Regions from separate parts of the Homo sapiens genome. Here all the other regions are linked to region 1. The links come from fine-mapping of genetic effects on gene expression. A gene starts in region 1. Each other region holds a variant in brackets. All regions are shown on one strand. Distances are between the middles of the regions. Region 1 holds the start of PREPL (prolyl endopeptidase like). Region 2 overlaps SLC3A1 (solute carrier family 3 member 1). Region 3 overlaps SLC3A1 (solute carrier family 3 member 1).

The links. PIP is the estimated chance that this variant, and not a neighbour inherited with it, causes the effect. A credible set is the group of variants that fine-mapping cannot tell apart.
Region 2: its variant is the best candidate, but not a certain one, in a credible set for the expression of PREPL in whole blood (TOPMed, PIP 0.89).
Region 3: its variant is the best candidate, but not a certain one, in a credible set for the expression of PREPL in blood mononuclear cells (TOPMed, PIP 0.77).

Annotation. Positions count from the first base shown.
Region 1 is chr2:44,358,023-44,365,049 of GRCh38, reverse strand. PREPL (prolyl endopeptidase like) reads left to right here and starts at 3,556. Exons shown (of 14, transcript NM_001171613.2): 1 at 3,556-3,670. CAMKMT (calmodulin-lysine N-methyltransferase) reads right to left here and starts at 3,103. Exons shown (of 11, transcript NM_024766.5): 1 at 2,905-3,103. The coding sequence starts at 3,042. RefSeq lists enhancers at 2,396-3,289, 3,008-3,477, 2,714-3,913, 3,290-4,184.
Region 2 is chr2:44,318,318-44,325,344 of GRCh38, reverse strand. It overlaps SLC3A1 (solute carrier family 3 member 1), which reads right to left. Exons shown (of 10, transcript NM_000341.4): 10 at 3,851-5,146. The coding sequence ends at 4,706. PREPL (prolyl endopeptidase like) reads left to right here. Exons shown (of 14, transcript NM_001171613.2): 11 at 1,934-2,083; 12 at 2,491-2,614; 13 at 3,445-3,518; 14 at 3,900-7,027. The coding sequence ends at 3,989. Among named protein-coding and RNA genes, the nearest start is that of PREPL, 40 kb to the left of the region's middle. The variant A/G (reference allele first, on the strand shown) is at 4,202.
Region 3 is chr2:44,284,091-44,291,117 of GRCh38, reverse strand. It overlaps SLC3A1 (solute carrier family 3 member 1), which reads right to left. Exons shown (of 10, transcript NM_000341.4): 4 at 4,961-5,086. Among named protein-coding and RNA genes, the nearest start is that of SLC3A1, 12 kb to the right of the region's middle. RefSeq lists an enhancer at 3,879-4,434. The variant T/C (reference allele first, on the strand shown) is at 3,172.

The sequences.
Region 1 (7,027 bases):
TAATATATGTGATCGATTAAATTGTAATAGAAAAATATTCACTTCCTCTTTGTCACCTCCAAGGAAGGAGTTGTATTTCCCTGCCCCTTGAATTTGGCCTTTGCCAAATATCTTACTTTGGCCAATAGGAAATAAACACATGATGTGAGCAGGGGTTTAAAATGTGTCTCTGTGGTTGGGCTTGCTCTTATACCTCTGCTATCACCATGAGGACTTCAGCCCACTAGTCCAAAGATTAGAGACATATGGACCACATGTGCATCATAGAGATACCCAGATGACTACAGCCTATGTCGGTCAGCTCCCAGGTGGCCCCCAGATGCACCAACAAAATAAATACTAACTGTTGTATGCCACTGTGATGTTGCGGTTCTTACTTAGCAATAGCTTACTGATAAAATACACTAAGGACTAGGTGCTATGCGCCACTTAAAGACTGTCCTTACTCTCAGGCTTTCCACAGACACTGAACAACATCTACTAAAAATCAATTAACCAGGCCCTGTGCTAGGTGCAGAGGATGTAAATTAATAAAACATCACCTTTTCCCAGGGTGAATGCCCATTCTAGTAAGAAAAAGAGACCCTGATCACATGATCATAAAATAATATAAAGGGCTCATTGGTAGAGTTGGCTGAGGGTCTAACTTAGCCCAGAGGCATTAGGGGTGGCTTCACAGAAGAGTAGTTTGAAATGGAAGTGTGAAGAATGAACAATCATTCACCAAGTAGAGAAGATAAAAAGACTATAAGCAGGCAGATATATACCAAAAGTTTCGATGTCAGAACGTGTGGGGACTTCATGTAACAGCCACAGCTGAAACTTGTCACTGTTTTCATTTAGACCGCAATTTAGAATGAACATAAGTGCTGTAGTTTTTACTATACTGAGAATCACTGAAAGCCAGGTATCATGGCATACCCCTGTAATTCCAACTACTCAGGAGGCTGAGGTGGGAGGATTGCTTGAGCCCAGGAGTTACCTGCCTGGGCAACAAGCAAGACTCTATCTTATTTAAAAAAAAAAAAAAAAAAAAAAGGAAGGGTGGGGGCGGTGGGCGTGGCAGGCATGGTGGCTGATACCTGTAATCCCAGCACTTCGGGAGGCGAGGCAAGTGAATCACCTGAGGTCAGGAGTTTGAGACCAGCCTGGCCAACATGGCGAAACTCCGTCTCTACTAAAAACACAAAAATTAGCTGGGCGTAATGGCGAGCACCTGTAATCCCAGCTATTCGGAAGGCTGAGTACGGGAGAATTGCTTGAACCAGGGAGGCGGAGGCTGCAGTGAGCCGAGATTGCGCCATTGCACTCACGTCTGGGCAACACAGTAAGGCTCTGTATCGAAAAAAAAAAAAAAAAAAGAAGGGGGTTGCCGGGCACGGTGGCTCATGCCTGTAATCCCAGTACTTTGGGAAGCCGAGGTGGGTGGATCACCTGAGGTGGGGAGTTCGAGACCAGCTTGACAAACATGGAGAAACCCCGTCTCTACTTAAAAAAAAAAAAAATTAGCCAGGCGTGGTGGTGCATGCCTGTAATCCCAGCTACTGGGGAGACTGAGGAAGGAGAATCATTTGAACCCTAGAGGCGGAGGTTGTGGTGAGCGGAGATGGCAGCCATTGCAGTCCAGCCTGGGCAACAAGAGGGAAACTCCATTTCAAAAAAAAAGGAGGGGGGAAGGGGGGTTGAGTCCACTCTCCCCAGCTCACGCCAGATCTCATTTCAGTGGTCACTATTAAAAAAAATTAGATATTTACTTTATTATAGATACTTCCTATGATGATCTGTGAGGACATGCATTTTCTTATCCTGTAATACCATTTGTAACAATAGCAAAACCAGATCATTACTGGTCTGGAAAGACTGTCAATGTATCAGCAAATAAATCTTAATTAACTCTGATGATCTACTTAACTCATAACTCTAAAAGCACTAAAAGACCACTGTATGAAAAGGTGACTCAAGGCAACTGCAAACAAAGTGATCCCCAAAATACTAAAAGCACAATCTCAAGTAAAGTGGCAATAGCTGGGAAACTCTTTTCCAAACACAACTGTCAGAAATGGAAAAATGTCCTCCTGAGTAAAGTTTTCGGCAGAAAACTTCAGGCAGAGGCATAACACTGCTATGCAAAAACAATAACCAGACTTCACTTCAAGAAGTGAGCGAAGAATGTGAGTGATCATAAATCAGAACTTCCGTCAAGCTTGCACGAGTGGAGTTGTAAGTAACAGCAGAAACTTTGAAGTACCAGAAGATACCATCATTCAAAAACGAACACACTTTGACTAGCCCACCTTGGACACGGAGAATCTCGCTGATCACTACAAACTACAAGATAATCATTTAACTTTGAGACCTCAGTGAGAGAGGGTATCAGCTTTTCCTACTCCTTGCACGCTCCGCTGTACGGAAGATGCCGAGGGAACGCATGCCGTGTCTCAGTCCCGGCATAGTCAACCACGCTGGGCAAAAGACGGGGCCAGAGGGTGCAGACGAATATCGGTAACTCGAACCAGGCTGGGAGTTAAGCTAGAAGAAACTGGGGAAGGAGGCAAAACAGAAGCAGGAAAAGAGCAGTGGGGAGCGGCGGGCGCACCAGAGACTGGCGAGAAGGGGAAAAGTCCCCCAGACGCACAAAAATGTCTAGAAGGGGTTCTTCTACTTCGATCTGAGTTTCCCAGGAGCTCAGCCTTGGCTGTCCCGCTCCCCACCCAACCCCACATGATTCCTCCTCTTGGATGGGACGCTTAGGTGAAGCGAGGGGGAGCTTCGCAGGTGGCTCCCGGCAAACTGAGAAGGGTCTCCCAGAGCTGCCAAGAGGAAAGAACTGCGAACAGTCGCTCCCCCGGTACGTGAGAGAGGAGTGACCAGAGGCAAAGGTGAGGCGAGCAGGTTCTCCCTTACCTGCCGCAGGAGCTTCCACCGGGCGGCTCCCAGGGGCGCCGAGACTACGGGCCCCCGAGTGGTGCAGCCAACTGCCGGACTCCCGCCCGCTGCTCGCGCGGTCTCGCCGGTCCCAGCGTCCGCGACTCGCGACTCCATCTCACTGGAGCCTTCCACACCCGGAGGTGCCACCGCCGCAGCTCGTCCCCTGCCAGGACCTGCCAACTTCTTCCCTGTCAGGACCTGTGACGCCCGGCACCCTCCCTCCACCGGACCAGGCATGCGCGCTCTCCCCGAATTCCGCATTTCCGGTACTCGCATCTCCTTGGCAACCAGGGCCGAGCTGTCACGCCATTGCACCATTCTTGCTGGTAGCCATCTTGAGTGAGGGCGGACCAGAGGATGAGAGAGCTGTGGCAGGGCTACTGGAACGCTGTCCCTCATTGTTTTAGCCTTCTGTGCTTCATCTCGAGCTCAGAAGACTAGCGAAGAACGAAAAGTCTTATATATTTCGAGACTAAAGAACCCAGGAACCCAAGAAGACTCCTTGACCACAACAAAGATGGCGAAATCTGCCTGTTGCTCGTGCTAGATTGAGGTTACGTAGATTGGCGTGCTGCAAACCAGCTCTAGGCGGCTCTGGGTAAGTTGTCGTTCTGTGGGCTGCGGAACGCAGACTTCGGCTGGACTTGCCTGCGGTGACACCTGCTCCCCTCTGAGAGCTTCAGGTTCTCCGGCCTGCCTTCACTGGTTTGTGTCCAGAGCCGGACTGATTCTCTCAATTTGCGTATGTATGGGGGGTGTGCTGGTCTCTTTCCTTCTCCCCTTTCTCCCCCCGCCCAGCCACCCACCCCTCAGTCCCCAGGTCCTCGCTTTTTGACTAATGTCCCGGCACTGCGTGCGTGTCACCTGGTCCCTCTCCCTGTTGCATTCAGATCGCCTCATCCCTGGGGTGGAGAGTTGCACGGGGTAAACGAATAGGTTCTCCTGAGAACACCCATTTATCTACCCCACCCCCATCCTAGCCTTGCATACTGTCTTCTTGGGGATGAAAGATGGATGGATAAAGGCTGTGGGAACGTGGTGATGTAGGACCTTTGCAGGTCCTTGTTATTCGGGTCTTTTTTCCCCTTTTTTTACTAGTGTCGGCTAGTAAACTAGTGTTGCTCCCCTACCCCCAATCGCCCATTATTTTGCTGCGACATGGAAAGGGATTAAGGGGGGCGGGGGCGTCGTAGCGCATCTGATCTATGGTAAATTTGACGCAGCATTCTACCTTTGATACCAGGGGGCATTTTGTGGAAGACTTCCATAATGACATTCAGCGGTGTGCAACATACCTAGATTATTCCTGTCGTAAATAATAGCAACTGCCATTTATTGAGTGGTCACTATGTGCCAGGCACTGTATGGTCTTAATGTTAAGCTGTCTCATTTTGTCTTTACAACAACAACCCTAGAAGGTAAATGGTGTCATTTCATTTTTGCAGATGAAGAAACTGAGGCCCGGAGACACAGTTAAGTGTAGGAGCTAAGACCTCAACCCAGGTCTCTCTGACTCTTAACTACTTATTAGCAATCAAGGTTAATAAAAGCTACCTCCTGACAAACCAGAGATGGCCTTACATTTTATTTGTGCATCTTGCAGGGGTTTTTTGTTGTTTTTAATTAAAGCGCTAAATACCTTTTTAACATTAAAAATCCGAAGTTGAGTATGTCCAGTATTTGGAACCGAACCAAATTGGATTTTTTGCTATACAGCTTACTGTACAAGTGACCTGGAACAGTTGCTTAGAACCTCCCACAGCCACAGTTTGGCAACCTGTAAAATGTGCATGGTAATATCTACTTTATTAAGTCCATATAAAATTTAAATTAGACAAACAAGATAAAAGCACCTGGCAGTTAGTTAACACTCAACAATAATTAATCTTCCCTCCCCCACCTTTATTAAATAATTAGGCTTTTCCAGTTTATCTTCCACATATATACCAAAGATACGTTCATAATTATGTAAGACCAAAGGGCTTTTTACCTTTTACAGCCCTGAGTTCCTGAGATACCCCATTAAGTCTGTGTACTTATTTGCAAATTTATATTTTGTTTCTTGTTTTGTTTTTTGTTTTAGTTTAACCCCTATGTGTGCCAGAGTCAGTGCTGCATAGTTTGAGCCTGATAGGATTAACTTTACAAATGAGACATTTAAGTCACATCTGCCAAGAATTATGATTTGAATGAAACTTTAACTTACACAGGTTTTTAGATTTAGTTAGCCTAAGTTATCAGCTGTCTGAAGTTATTCATAACCTAAGTGGGGCATGGCCCTGAAAAGGAGGGATGAGAACTGCTGATCTTAGTTACTCTGAGAACCCACTACTCTGTAATCATACCTATAAAATCATTCGTGTGCTGGCAGCCCCAAAAGGAGCATAAACCAGGGACTTTGATATCATGCAGCAGAAGACCAAATTATTTCTCCAAGCTTTGAAGTATAGTATTCCTCACCTTGGAAAATGCATGCAGAAACAGCATTTGAATCACTATAACTTCGCTGATCATTGTTACAATAGAATAAAATTGAAAAAATATCACCTAACCAAGTGTCTTCAGAATAAACCCAAGATATCAGAGTTAGCAAGAAACATCCCAAGTCGGAGCTTCTCATGTAAGGTATGGACTGTTTAAGTTAACCTATTTGTAGGTCATTAAGATTAATTTTAATTTAAAAATAAAGAATGGGTAGAATATCAGAGCTACTAATTTTCTCAGTAATTCTAACTTGATTTTTCTAATTTTCAAGTCTCAATTGTCTCTAGTCAAAAGTAAGTATAAAAGAGTATATACATCGAGGCAGGCAGATCACCTGAGGTCAGGAGTTCGAGACCAGCCTGGCCAACATGGTAAAACCCTGTCTCTACTAAAAATACAAAAGTTAGCTAGGCGTCATGGCACCCACCTGTAATCCCAGCTACTTGGGAGGCTGAGGCAGAGAATCTCTTGAACCCAGGAGGCAGAGGTTGCGGTGAGCTGAGATCGCACCACAGCACTCCAGCCTGGGTGACAGGGAGACTCTGTCTGAAAAAAAAAAAAAAAAAAAAAGTGTATACATATATTTATAGGGCTCTAATGTAATATATAAAAATGTAGGTTTATAAAAAATGATTCACCTCAGGACTTCCTTAGTATGCCTGCCAGTGCATTTCAAAGTATAATTCGGCCTTCTAAATTTCCTAGAACACTAAATTATAGCTCTTAATAAAATCTAATGATACGCTAATTGTTTTATGAATCACAAATCAGTAAACTTCAGTAAAGGCCATGAATTGTATTTTATTTCTCTGTAAAAAAATGAAAAATAATCTTGCGTTTTTGACCACTTGAGTCATTCAGGAAGACACTGTCAGAGTATTGTACTTCTGCCAGACCCCAAGCTGTGGGCGTGAACTCAACCTTAAGGACCTGATTGCCCTTATATAGAGAGTAACCACATAACCACTTTTGCCTGGCACAGCTCCAGCCTACACCTGTTGTCCCTGTGTAATTATTAATAGTGTCCCCTTTCCTCTCAAAAGTGTCCTGGTTAGAATGGTAAATTATATGGTCATCCTACAGTAAGTAGGATTAAATGATCTATTTGTGCTGCTGCTGCTTTGACATCCCTCTCCTACCTTTTACTTCTTATGTTCCTTAGGTTCCTTAATGATATTTGGGGGTGGTATTCTTGCAATAGTTTCACAAATTTATGATTTTAATATTTTTTTTATTTTAATTTCTGGTTTTGTCGCATACTGATTTTTCTTTTAGTCTGTTTTGGCTTCCTCCTTTCTTCGGGTAAAATATATGTATAACAAAGTTTTCCACTTGATCCATTTTAAAGTATGCAATTCAGTGGCTTTCAAAGTTCATCTGTGTTGTATGCATGTATCATAACTTCATTTCTTTTTATAGTTGAATAATATTCCTTTGTATGTATAAACCACATTTTGTTTATCCATTCCTGTAATTGATGGACACTTGGGCAGATTCTTCTCATTTTAGAAACTATCTTTTCAATCTAATTTTTCTCAGTTTTTCTAGTTTTTGTTCAATTTTTGCCGCTATCTTAGCTGATACCTATTTAGGTGTTGTGTGTGTCTCTTTTGCT
Region 2 (7,027 bases), 40 kb after region 1:
ACACTGCCAGTGCAACTTCTAGAGCTGGATATAGCTGTGGCACTTTTGCCAGAATAAATTATCTGTGATCACTGCTTCTTTGAATCACTAACTTTCCATGCAGAGTGTAAAGCACATGTGTCTGGTTGATAGACCCAAGTCACACATGGGTCACACAGCTACTCCCAAGCTGCAGGGAAAAATGGGAAAGAGAAGTCTAGCACTTAGTATCTCCACAGTGAGAGGCAGGCTCTAGCTGATAAGGTTGGAGGTTTTTCAAATGCAAAAAAGTTCATATGGTAGGCAGCCAAAAAGAATTACAGATGACTCACTATACTTGGTTAATGTTAATATGAGGGAAAGCTAAAAAGTATGTTAACAGAAGAAAATAAAGCTAAGTGAAAAATACAGCCTTCATTTTTGTTTTGTTGTTTTTGTGGGGTTTTTGTTTTTTTGTTTTGTTTTGTTTTGTTTTTTGAGTCAGAGTTTTGCTCTTTCACCCAGGCTGGAATGCAATGGCACACGAACACAGCTCACTACAGCCTCGACCTCTGGGGCTCAGGTGATCCTCCCACCTCAGCCTCCTGAGTATCTGGGACTACAGGCATGTGCCACCATGCCCTGCTAATTTTTGTGGTTTGTTGTTGTTTTGTAGAGATGTGGTTTTACCATGCTACCCAGGCTAGTTTCAAACTCCTGGGCTCAAGTGATTTGCCCACCTCAGCCTCCCAATGTGCTGGGATTACAGGCATGAGCCACCATGTGCGACCCAGCCTTCGTTTTATTAAATTTTGTAACACTAATTATAAGCCAATGGGTTGTTTTCTCTTCTTTCACCTTGGGTATTTTGCAGAGTTTCTTTACTTAGCGTTTTTTGCTTTTAATATAAAATGTCCAACTGGTCAAAAAGACTTTATTCCTTGTGTATTTTTTTCATTTAAAAATTTTTAATTATGGTAAAATACCATAAAATTTACCATCTCAACCATTTTTAAGTGAATAGTTCAGTAGTGGTAAGTGCACTCATAGGCTTATGCAGTCAATCTCCAGAACTCGTTTTTCATCTTAACAAAACTGAAACCCTGTACCGATTAAACAGCTCTCCATTTGCTTCTTCCCACAGCCTCTGTCTCTGTGAATTTGACTACTCAAACACCTCACATAGGTGGAGTCATACAAAATTTTTTGTGACTGGCTTATTTCACTTAGATTATATCCTTGAGGTTCATCCATATTGTAGCGTGGATCAGAATTTTATTCATTTTTAAGGCTGAATAATATTCCATGTAATATTGCATGTGTATACCACATTTTGCTTATTCGTTCTTTGGTTAATGGACACTTGAGTTGCTTCCACCTTTTGGCTGTTGTGAATATGCTGCTGTGAACATAGGTATGCAGATCTCTTTAAGACCCTGCTTTCAGTTTTGGGGATTATATGCCAGGAGTGGAATTGCTGGATCATATGGTAATCTTAAGCTTAACTCTTTGATGAACCACCATACTGTTTTCCAAAGCAGCTCCCCCATTTTACATTCCAACCACCAGTGTATCAGGATTCCGGTTTCTCCACATTACTGCCAATACTTGTTGTTGTTGTTGTTGTTTTAATATAATAACTAACTGTCCTAATTGGTATGAGACAGTAGCATTTATTGCTTTTATATAAGAAAAAATATAAATGAATAAAAGGTACTAAGCTAAAAATAAATATTGTGAAATTAGAAGATAAACCATTTCTTGTTATATGTCATTTAAGGAATCTGAAGACTTTAAAAGTAGGTTATAAATTACAGGCCCTGGTTAAGGACTGAGTATTCTAGCTCCTAGGAATCTACATGGCTTGAGTTATTTTCTCTCATATTAGTATGTATATTCATAAAATAGAATGTTTTTCTGAAACTCACTTACCAACCTCTTACTTGAAGTATAAGTTTCTTTGCCTTTTTTTTAGGCACCTTTCTTGGATGTTCTCAACACCATGATGGACACTACACTTCCTCTGACATTAGAAGAATTAGAAGAATGGGGGAATCCTTCATCTGATGAAAAACACAAGAACTACATAAAACGTTACTGTCCCTATCAAAATATTAAACCTCAGGTAGTGAAAGACAATTGTGTTAGATTATCCTGAATTTACACAGAAGATAATAAAAAAAAAACTTATCCAAGCTGAAGCAAAAATAGGAGCTTTAGAGATGTTTCTACTTATGATGCCCAAATATCTTCAGCACCATCTCTGCTCATGCTCCATGTTTAATACCTCAGGGGAATAGACTTATCATGCCTTAATTACTAAATTAGCTAAGGTCCTTTAGTCAAGAAAAGGCTATTCCAGATAACAAGTAGTCTACTACTGTAATACTGAGGCGCTCTCAAGATAGCAAGTGAGAAAAAGCATAGAGCACTTACAGGGAAAAATTGGAGGTAATTATTTTTCATAGTCTCTATAGTGGCAAGGGACCATAAGAAATAATGTAAACTCTTCGTGCATGTATTTTCTTTCAGCATTATCCTTCAATTCACATAACGGCATATGAAAACGATGAACGGGTACCTCTGAAAGGAATTGTAAGTTATACTGAGAAACTCAAGGAAGCCATCGCGGAGCATGCTAAGGACACAGGTGAAGGTAGGAGACCCCCTAGAAGCAGGGAACATGGCCAAACAGACTACTACCCACAGCACACTGCTCAGAGGAATATATTTCAGGCTGTAGCCAAATCATCTGCCCAGGATTTAGGGCAAACAATTATTTTGCTATGTTGACTCCCCAGTTAAAGTGTACGTAACTACATGTCTATACATACACTGCCTCACCTCTTTTTCAAAGGACAGTATTAAAATAGATAGGCAGGACACAAAGGAAACAGGAAATTTAAGAATCAGATATAACTTGGAGATGCACTGCCATACAATTATTAATTCATTTAACAATATTTATTGAGCCGTTATTCTTGGGAATCTCTAAAAGACAGATTCTGAGATTTTTGTTTTGGGCCATCAGTGCCCAAACTGTTTAGCTGCATGAATTTCCTCTAGCTAGCTGTTTCAGCTTTATGAGATAAGAATCCCTCCCTTTTGCCTTGAAACTACATGCCATATCAGTCTCCCTGTATTCATCTCCATTTGTCACCCCCATCCATTGCTGTAGTTGGTGTTTCCAGGGCATAAGACTCTCAGATTCCACAGGGCAGGTTGATGATCTCCTGGGTTTCAACCTTGTCCGTGTGGCACCATATAGTCTTTTCCATACGGCCTCTTCCTGCTTTCGCTGTGTCAGAAGTTTGTCTTCTGTTGCTTGTCCCCTCCCATCTTTTTGTTGATGATGGTGGTTTTTGCTTTTTATTCCTTTACTATTATTTGAACTGAGTACTCAAAGAAGAGGGGAGGAATGGGTCTCGATCTTCCAAAGAAGATCCCATACAATCTTCTAATTGTTCTACATGTTAACTCTTCCAGGCTATCAGACCCCTAATATTATTCTAGATATTCAGCCTGGAGGCAATCATGTAATTGAGGATTCTCACAAAAAGGTATGTTATCAAGGCCCTCTCAGTGGACAGATTCCCGAACTAGATACATGTTGTTTTCACATTTTCAGTGGTTGCAGCAGGTTTATGACAAAGCCACTTCACAAATGTCCTATCTATGGGTGAGACCCAGGAGGGGAGGGAGGGACACTGTGTCAATCAAGAGAAATGTCTCTCTCTTGTACTTGATACGTGAGCTCTGTTAAAGAAAATAATTTAATCTTAATTGTTGGAAGCCTTCTGCCTCTCTCTCGAATGAAAGTATTCTTGCCATAAATTGCTGACTTCACGGTTAGGTAAAGATGGATAGATAAAGAGAAGCTTAAACAGTGGCATTTTACTACAAAGGCCTTCTATTTAATTTTTTTAATGTGTTTCTTTTAGATTACAGCCCAAATTAAATTCCTGTACGAGGAACTTGGACTTGACAGCACCAGTGTTTTCGAGGATCTTAAGAAATACCTGAAATTCTGAAACACTGCATTCAACTGGGAATTGGAAACACACTGAAATATTTCATAGTCTTACTTCCAATTGAGTTAGCAAAAAAAAAATTAATAACTTGAGACTTTTAAGTTATTAATTTTTTAAAATGTGCTTCTCCATCTAAATTTTGCTTAGTCTACATCTCACTTGCTTATACTATTCTCTCCATTGATGCACATGCCCATTAACCTAGGAAAGTA[A/G]TTTTCAAATCATGCTCCTTAGAAGGATGTGGAGTAGAGGGAAGGGAAGGATTGGTGATAGCAGAGCTCCAGGCCTCCCTTCCAGTCAGAACAGTTGAGCAGTTTACAAATTAGTGTCCTGCCTCTTTGCTAGCAAATGCTTTTAGACACTGTGGCAGTGAGTCATCCTCTAATTTCTATGACTGCATTTTAAGGGAAAAGATAAAATTCTTCCCCTTAAAATTCGTTAAAGTTTTTGAATAATCTGGGGTCCTAATGTGTTCTGGTCATCCCTGATTGATGCTATCTGAATAAAGTTATAAGCTCCTATAAGCCATAATTTACTTTTAAACATTTTATTTTTTTCAAAACATTTGAGAACCTTTCTTAAAGCAGTTACATTCAAGCTACAGAAATATCGAAGAATTAATGATTGTTCACCAAGCAGCATGCTGTACATGAAGCTATTACAAATGCTTACAATCCCACTGAAATGCCAGTGTCTTCATCTCTTCATAAAGGTGCCTAACACGAGGTATACAGTATGTTCAGTACACTGGAATAGCATGCTCGATTGGAAACAAAGCATCTATCTCTGAAAGCTGTTTGGCGATGAAGGAGATTCTTCGTGTTGTGTTCAAAGATGAGTCCCTCTCCCTTGTCCAGAAAAATGCCACTTGTATCAACTTTACTGCCTTTGTCGGCAGAATTGGTACTTAACCTTATTCTCATTTTAGCGGGAAGGCCCGAAATCATATTATGTAGATTTAACAGTGTTGATTCTCCAAAATTCAGAACCACGATAAAGATTCTGTCGATGCCATCCAGCTCTCTTGTGTACACAACATAGTGGCTGTCATTCCTCAAATGGCAAAACCAGCCCCTGTTGAGGAGTAGCTCATTGGCATGAAGTAGACTTAAATCTTGATATAACTTCAAAGCCGATCTGGGCTGAGTCTTTTGGACCTATTTTTTTAAAAAAGTATTTACGTAAGTGTTTGATTCTAAGAATTGTTTGTAAGTATTTTTAATATATTGTAAGGAGTTATTTACCCAAAACACTTGCTCCAATTTTGCCCCTTATAATTGCCAAATTGTAAGCATCAATAAGTAGGTAAGAACAATTTATATAAAAACTGATAGAAATGACAAATTCGGGGTTTCGGCTTGTCTGGGAGTCAATAAGTACGCACAGTGCTCTGCTACATTGTAGAGTTTCTGTAGAGATCAAATTTGACTCCACTTTAGGAGTCCCAAAGCAAATGTCCATGTCTAAGATGAATATTTAACTTGCATAGTCATTCTGTGCTATATTGTAACTGCCAGATGGCCAGAAAGAAGGCAACAGTGGACTCAGACTTCTGAGGAATTTGGGTTTGTTCCCCTTTGTAGACTAATGTGTAGGTTGCTGTTGTGCGAAGATCGTGTAACTTTAGCAGACATGTATTTCTTGCACAGCTAATAGAAGACAAAGTTGAAAAAAAGGATGCAAAATAAAAAGCTGCCTAAGGTGAAAGTTAGAAATTGTAGACTTTTTTTTACCATAATAGTATGTGTTCATTAAAGATGATTTGGGTTTATTTTACAGCTATATAAAACATAATTTGATGATGTACTTCTAACCTTTCAAGCATTTTCTGTTATTGACTATATAATATAGCCTCCATAAATGTTTTTAATGACAATATTCTGTTGAACGGTTGTACCATACTCAGCCATGCCCTTTCATTTTGACGATAGTGTTTCTAATATTTTGTATTTTTATTCCCCTCCCCCCATTTTTGTATTACTTAAGATAGATTATCAGAAAGACAGTTACTTTGTCAAAGAGTATGGGCACTTGATACATAATGCCAAATTATTCTTCATAAGAGCTGTTGCCAAATCAGTGATAATGTTCATTTAATTGTATTCTTGCCAGCCATGTTTACTGGGGTGATAGTTGTTATTGTGGTTGTTATTGTTCTTTAGGGGTAGGTTCCCAATATGTGGTCTTTAAATAATTATCTAATGGTGTTTAAAAAGATGTTTATTCTGTTTGTCAGGTACAAAGATATTTATGATACATGTATGACTTGTCTAAGTTATTAACATTTTCTCTAGCCTTAGGTAATGCATGAAAGCACATGTTTCAGTGCCACTCACATAAGAAGTGCCCGGTAAGTGTTAGCTATTATTGTCTACTTGAGTTACTACTTTCTAAAAGTATGTTGAAGTCTTTTTCTGTAATTGCAGATTTGTTGATTTTGCATTTGAGTATTTTCTATATTTTGAAGCTGTTAGATGCGTAGTCATGATTTTTGGTGGAATGTTTTATCAATTTTTGAAAATTGCCTTTGTCTCATATAATGCTTTTCATATTGAACTATATTTTGTCTGCTATTAAATACTTCCAAGCCTGATTTTTGTAATTTTATTTTTTATTCAATTACAAGAATACATACTATAAAAAGGTTTTCTTCAACACCTTTCCATAGCTTCACAGTTCCCCTCAGAGACAGGCACTATATGTTCTTTTGTTTTTAATGTATCATATGTTTGCATAGGCACAGAATGTATCATTTCATATGTTTATATATTTTTCTTTACACAGTTGGTGATATGTTACCATTCTATACTTTATTGAATACCTGTTTGAAATGGTCTCATATCAATGTATATAGAACTGTCATTTTTAAAAGCTGCATACTGGGCCCATAGTTGATAGAACTGGTTTTCTGTTGATAAAATATTTAAATCATTTCTTGTGTCTTCTATTAAAAACAAATTTTGCAGGCCAGGCAAGGTGGCTCAGGCCCGTAATCCTAGCACTTTGGGAGGCAAGGCAGACAGATCACCAGAGGTCAG
Region 3 (7,027 bases), 74 kb after region 1:
ATGAACTCAAGTCCGAGTGTCTGGATTTCAGTCCTGCTCCATGACTCCCAAGGATGGTGACTTTACCTATCTAAGCCTCAATTTCCTTCTCTGTAAAATGATCACAAAACCTCGTAAATTAGGCTTATTCTGAGCATTAAATTATCCAGGAACAGCACTTAGCACATAGAATGTGTGGGGAGAGCATGAGGCGTGGGTGATAAGGAGTTTTGGTGATGAAGAAGAGGAGAGTCCACAGGCTACCAGAGAAGTTTAAAACTAACCCCTAGTTAGTCTGCTGACCATGTCTACAACTACCCACCCCACAACCCCACAACCCCACAACCCCATGGAGGCAAGGTGCCCTCACTCATGGTGCTTACTTCCAGAACCAATTCCAAAACAATTCATACAAATTCTGGAAACACCAAACATATACAGTAAAAAAAAAAAAAGTCTTAAAAATAAGTAGTCTATAGGAATACATTTAACGAAAGAAGTACAAGACATGTACTCTGAGAACTGCAAAACATTGTTGAAAGAAATGAAAGAACACGTAAATAAATGGAAAGACATCTCATGTTCATGAATTGGAAGACTTAACATAAGATGGCTATGTTCCCCAGAGTGAACCACAGATTCAATGCAATCCCTATCAAAACCACAGCAGGCTTCTTTGCAAACATTGTCAAGCTGACTCAGAAATTCACATGGAAATCCAAAGGACTTGGAATAGTGAAACAATACTGAAAAAGAACAAAGTTGTAGGATTCTCACTTCCCGATTTCAAAACTTACTACAAAGCGCTAGTAATTCAGACAGTGTGTGGTACTGACATAAGGACAGACATATAGATGAATGGAACAGAACTGAGAGTCCAGAAATAAACCCATGCATTTATGGTCAATTGATTTTCAACAAAAGTTGCCAGACAATTCAGTAGGGAAAGAATAGTATTTTTAAACATACGTGATTGGAATAACTGAATAGCCACATGCAAAAAAAAAAAAAAAAAGTCGGACAGCTTACCTTCACACCCTATATAAAAATTAACAAAAAATGGATCACAGACAATCTAAAATGTAAGACTAAAACTGTGAAACTGAGAAGAAAACATAGGAGTAAATCTTCATGACCTTGGATTAAGCAATGGTTCTTAGATACGACACTAAAGGCACAAGCAACAAAAGAAAAAAATAAATAAATTGGGCCAGGCGCAGTGGCTCATGCCTGTAATCCCTGCACTTTGGGAGGCCGAGGCGGGTGGATCACCTGAGGTCAGGAGTTCGAGACCAGCCTAGCCAACATGATAAAACGCGTCTCTACTAAAAATACAAAAAATTAGCTGGGCATGGTGGTGCGCACCTATAATCCCAGCTACTCAGGAGGCTGCAGCAGGAAAATCACTTGAACCCAGGAGGCGGAGGTTGCAGTGAGCTGAGATTGCGCCACTGCACCCCAGCCTGGGTAACAAGAGCATAACTCTGTCTCAAAAAACAAATAAATAAATAGGACATCATCAAAATTAAAAACGCTTGTGCTTCAAAAGGCACCATCAAGAAAGTAAAAAGACAACCAACAGAATAGGAAAAATTATTTGTAAATCATGTATCAAGAATATGAAAAGAGGCCAGGTGTGGTGGCTCATGCCTATAATCCCAGCACTTTGGGAGGCTGAGGCAGGAGGATTGCTTGAGACCACGAGTTCGAGACCAGCCTGGCCAACATGGTGAAACCCCGTCTCTACTAAAAATACAAAAATTTGCCAGGTATGGTGATGCGCACCTGTAATCTCAGCTACTTGGGTGGCTGAGGTAGGAGAGTCACTTGAACCCAGGAGGTGGAGGTTGCAGTGAGCCGAGATCACGCCACTGCACTCCAGCCTGGGTAACAGAGTGAGACCCTGTCTCAAAAAAAAAAAGAAAAAAAGAAAAAGAAAAAGAATATGTAAGAACTTTTACAACCCAATAATAAAAAGACAACCCTGTTTAACAATGGGCAAAGGGCCAGGTGCGGTGGCTCACACCTGTAATCCCAGCACTGTGGGAGGCCAAGGAGGGAGGATTGCTTGAGACCAGGAGCTCGAGACCAGCCTGGCCAACATGGAGAAACCCCATCTCTACAAAAAATACAAAAATTAGTTGGGCATGGTGGCACGTGCCTATAGTCCCAGGTACTCAGGAAGCTGAGGCGCAAGAATCACTTGAGCCTGGGAGACTGGGGTTGCAGTGAGCCGAGACTGCACCACTGCACTCCAGCCTGGGTGACAGAGTGAAACTCTATCTCAAAAAAAATAAATAAATAAAAATGAAATAAAAATGGGCAAAGGATTTAAATAGACATTTCTACAATGCAGATATACAAATGAACTATAAGCACATAAAAAGATGTTCAACGTCTTTAGCCATTTGGCAAATACAACCAGTGAGATGCCACTTCATACCCACTAGGGTGACTGTAATAAAAAATATATGCAATAACAAGTGTTGGTGAGAATGTGGAGAAATTAGAACGCTTACCCATTGTTAATGGAAATGTAAAATTATGCAGCTGCTTTGAAAAACAACTTGGCAGTTTCTCAAATAAACACAGATACAGACACCTACCAGGGATATACAGATACAGCATGATTCTGTTGTACAAAGTGTCCAGAATAGGCAAAACCTATCTAACTGAGGCTTAGGTGGGTAAAAAGATAGAAAGTAGATTTGTGGTTTCCCAGGGGGTGGGGGAAGAAAGGGAGGGGGCCATAAGGAGTGACTGTTGATGGATATGGGGTTTCTTTTTGAGAAGATAAAAGTGTTCTGAAATTAGGCCAGGTGCAGTGGCTCATACCTGTAATCCCAGCATTTTGGGAAGCTGAGACGGGTGGATCATTTGAGGCCAGGAGTTTGAGACCAGCCTGGCCAACATGGCAAAACCCTGTCTCTACAAAAATACAAAAATTAGCCGGGCATGGTGGTACATGCCTGTAGTCCCAGCTACTCGGAGGCTGAGGCAGGAGAATCGCTTGAACCTGGGAGGCACAAGTTGCAGTGAGCCAAGATCATGCCACTACACTCCAGCCTGGGCGACAGAGCAAGACTGTCTCAAAAAAAAAAAAAAAGTTCAGAAATTAGTAGTGATTGTGAAACTCTGTGAAGATACTAAAACCACTGAATTACACACTCAAAAGGGGTGAATTTTATGGTA[T/C]GTGAATTATATGTCAATTAAACTGTTATTTCAAAATTAAACTAAACCAAGGGTTCTAGGTGCCCCTAGTGACTCCAGCATGACAGCTTGCATCCACTCTATCTGGCTGACGTGGTGAGCTGTGGAAAGGCACCCAATGCTCCCCGTTCTGTTAGGGTCTCCTTCCCACCTACTTGGCTCAGAGGACTCCCCTACTCCCCTAAGTTTCTGCCCACTGTAGCCATAGGAGCAGCAAGAACAAGAACAAGAACATAGCTGATATGTTTTGTGAATTGTATTGTGAGAAATGATCAGCCCCCACCTCTTACTTCAGCGCCCTAACCCATTTCACTCCAGCATACTGGTAGGGTTGCCAGATAAAATACAAGACACTCAATTACATTTCAATTTCAGGTAATCAATGAACAATTTTTTGGTAGCAGTATGTCTCAAATGTTGCATCATTCATTTAAAATTTAACTGGACATCCTGTATTTTTCTTTGCTAAGTTTGGCAACCCTACACTCTGGCCTCCATGCCATCCCTGAAACACATGAACCACACTCTCACCTCGGGACCTTTCCATTTGTTCTTCTTTCTGCCCGAAATTCTCTTCCCCCAGATAGTCACATGGTTCCTTTCTCACTTCAGGTTTTTGTCCAAACAGCATCTCATCATAAGAAGGTGTCTCCTACACACTTTATATAGAAGAGCCACTTCTACCTGACACTCCGATGCCCCTTCCCCTTGGCATTCACCACCACCTAACATATATATATTTAGTGGCTAATTGCCTGCTTTCCCCTCAGTATATTGGAGACTCCTTGAGGGTAAGGCTTCTTTTATTCACTGCTGCATTCCCAGTGCTTAGAACAGGGCCTGGCACGGAGTAGGCAATATGTTAATATTTACTCAATGAGTACAGAAGTGTCGTGCATGTGTTATCTCATCTAATCTTCCAAACAGCCCTATGAGACAAATATTGCCACCAACTGTGTTTCATAGATGAGACAGCTAAGACATGAAAGCCAAATAACCATCAAGAAGCCCATTTTAGATGCAGGAGCCAGACCCCAAATGACCCACCTCCCTGCAGCAGCTCACTGTCACAGACACCGCACAGCTCACCATCACAGGCACCGCACAGCTCACCGTCACAGGCACCGCACAGCTCACCGTCACAGGCACCGCACAGCTCACCGTCACAGACACCGCACAGCTCAGTCACAGGCACTGCACAGCTCAGTCACAGACACCGCACAGCTCAGTCACAGGCACCGCACAGCTCACCGTCACAGACACCGCACAGCTCACCGTCACAGACAGTGCACAGCTCAGTCACAGACACCGCACAGCTCACCGTCACAGACACCGCACAGCTCACCGTCACAGGCACCGCACAGCTCACCGTCACAGGCACCGCACAGCTCACCGTCACAGGCACCGCACAGCTCACCGTCACAGGCACCGTACAGCTCACTGTCACAGGTGGCGGGGCAACTTGGAGCTAGGGTGGCAGGTGTTTCTGACTCCTTCCATTTAGGGTACTCTGAGTTAGATGAAGGAAGGAGTCACAGACATGTCTGAGAGTCTACATTTGCACCAGAGAGCTTAATCCTGGGATTTAATTCAGGCTTGATTATTGCCTACACAATTATTGTGCAATATAAAGTGTTTCAAATAACTATAGAGTATTTCAAATAATTAAAGACTTGATTTTGCCTACACAATTACTGTGCAATATAAAGTGTTTTAAATAAATACCTAAACCTCCATTAATGGAGAAGTCTGTGTGGGTATCTATACTCACTTTTATTTCTTCTTGAACATCAGGATTGCGGAAATTTAAATCAGGTTGCTCTTTCATAAACTGATGAAAATAACATTGGTTTCGCACTTCGTCAAAGTGCCAACTGGAGTTTCCATACACACTTAACTGGCAAACAAAGAAAACAGCACATCAGTGACCTATAATGGTATTGCCCACAAATAAAGATCATTGCCCTCCCTGATCCTTTGCAGGCAGAGTATGTAAATCCTGAGAGTTTTCCTTCTACAGAGAGCAGCAGGTTAAAGAAACCCCTTCCAAATACCCCCCACCCCATTGGCCTAATGCCTCACAAACATGGTTGCAACGTATTTTTACAGTAGATGCTGTTTGTAACAACTGCAACAGCAAACCAATGTTCTCAAACCCAAGACAAGGTCAACTTAAGGAACTGACATTACTAATGTATTTTCTTGAATCTTCTGTCCAGGATCCAAACTCTTGTTTGTGAAGAGAAGCAAAATGGTAGTCAATTTGGAAGAAAGAAACATTCCGCTCATCTTGGAGCTTGAGCCCAGATAGACTGAATATTTAAATTATATCCCCAGAAAATTATTAGAATCCTTCACTTAAAATCTCTACCAGTCTCCAAGAATAAAAAGCAACTTCAAGTGTTGGTACTCAGCAATAGTTGACGATGTCGCTGGTCTCCTCTGTCTGGAAATGCTCACATTTATGGCCCCATGGTATGACTCTCCCGGCTGCCCTCCCACATCTCTGGCCACTCCTTAAGTCAACGCTGTGGGCCCTTGAATGTGAGAGTTTCATGGGGCTCTGTCCTAGGCCTTTTGTCCATTTCATGTTAAAGAGAACATCTGGAAAACATTTAACAACTGGGAGATTTTACATAAATCTTTTTGAGTTGGAAGACGTAGTTACACTGAGTCCACATGTCCATGGCAACACAGGCAGATGCTGAGTAGTAGCTGCTGCCTTTCAAGGACATGCACCCTTTCCAATTCAACACACAGCCCACCTGGACACAACCAGGGCAAGAGATTTTTAGTGTACATAAACAATAAAAAATCAGTATCCAGAATACAAAAGGAACTGAAGAAAGCAATTTCAAAGGGATAAATAATTCAAAAGAAAGTAGGGGAAAGAAACCATAAAGAGGTGTTTCACAGAAATGGACACTTAAATGAATAAATGTAAGAAAAGATGTTCAACATCATTAGGAATTAGATAATTACTGTATTAGGAATTAGACACATCATCATTAGTAATTAAATAAATATAAAATTAAGATCTCAAGGCAATATTGTTTTAAGTCTGGGCTGGGCATGGTAGCTCATGCCAGTAATCACAGCACTTTGAGAGCTGAAGCGGGAGGACTGCTTGAGGCCAGAAGTTCAAGACCAGCTTGGGCAACATAGTGAGAGCCCATATTTACAAAAAAATAAAAAAACTCAGCCACACATGATGGTGTGTGCCTGTGGTCCCAGCTACTAAGGAGGCTGAGGTGGCGAGGATTGCTTGAGCCTAGGAGCTCGAGACTGCAGTAAGCTATGATTGAGCCACTATGCTTCAGCCTGGGTGACAGAATGAGACCCTGACACAAAATAATAATAATTTTTAAATAAAAATTACAAAGTTGGGCAATATCAGGAATTAATGAGAATGTGTATTTTTTATACTTCTGTGGGGGATATAAATTGGTACAACCATTTTGATAATGAATTTGACACTATCCTGTAGAGCTGAGCATGCGATATCCTGCACAGCAATTTTACTCCTAGTTATTTACCTAAAAGAAGCCCTTGGTTGGGCGTGGTGGCTCACGCCTGTAATCCTAGCACTCTGGGAAGCCGACGTGGGCAGATCACAAGGTCAGGAGTTCAAGACCAGCCTGGCCAATATGGTGAAACCCTGTCTCTACTAAAGATACAAAAATTAGGTGGGCATGGTGATGGGTGCCTGTAGTTCCAGCTACTTGAGAGGCTGAGGCAGGAGAATCGCTTGAACTGAGGAGGCAGAGGTTGCAGTGAGCCAAGATCACGCCACTGCAGTCCAGCCTGGGCGACAGAGCAAGACCATCTCAAAAATAAA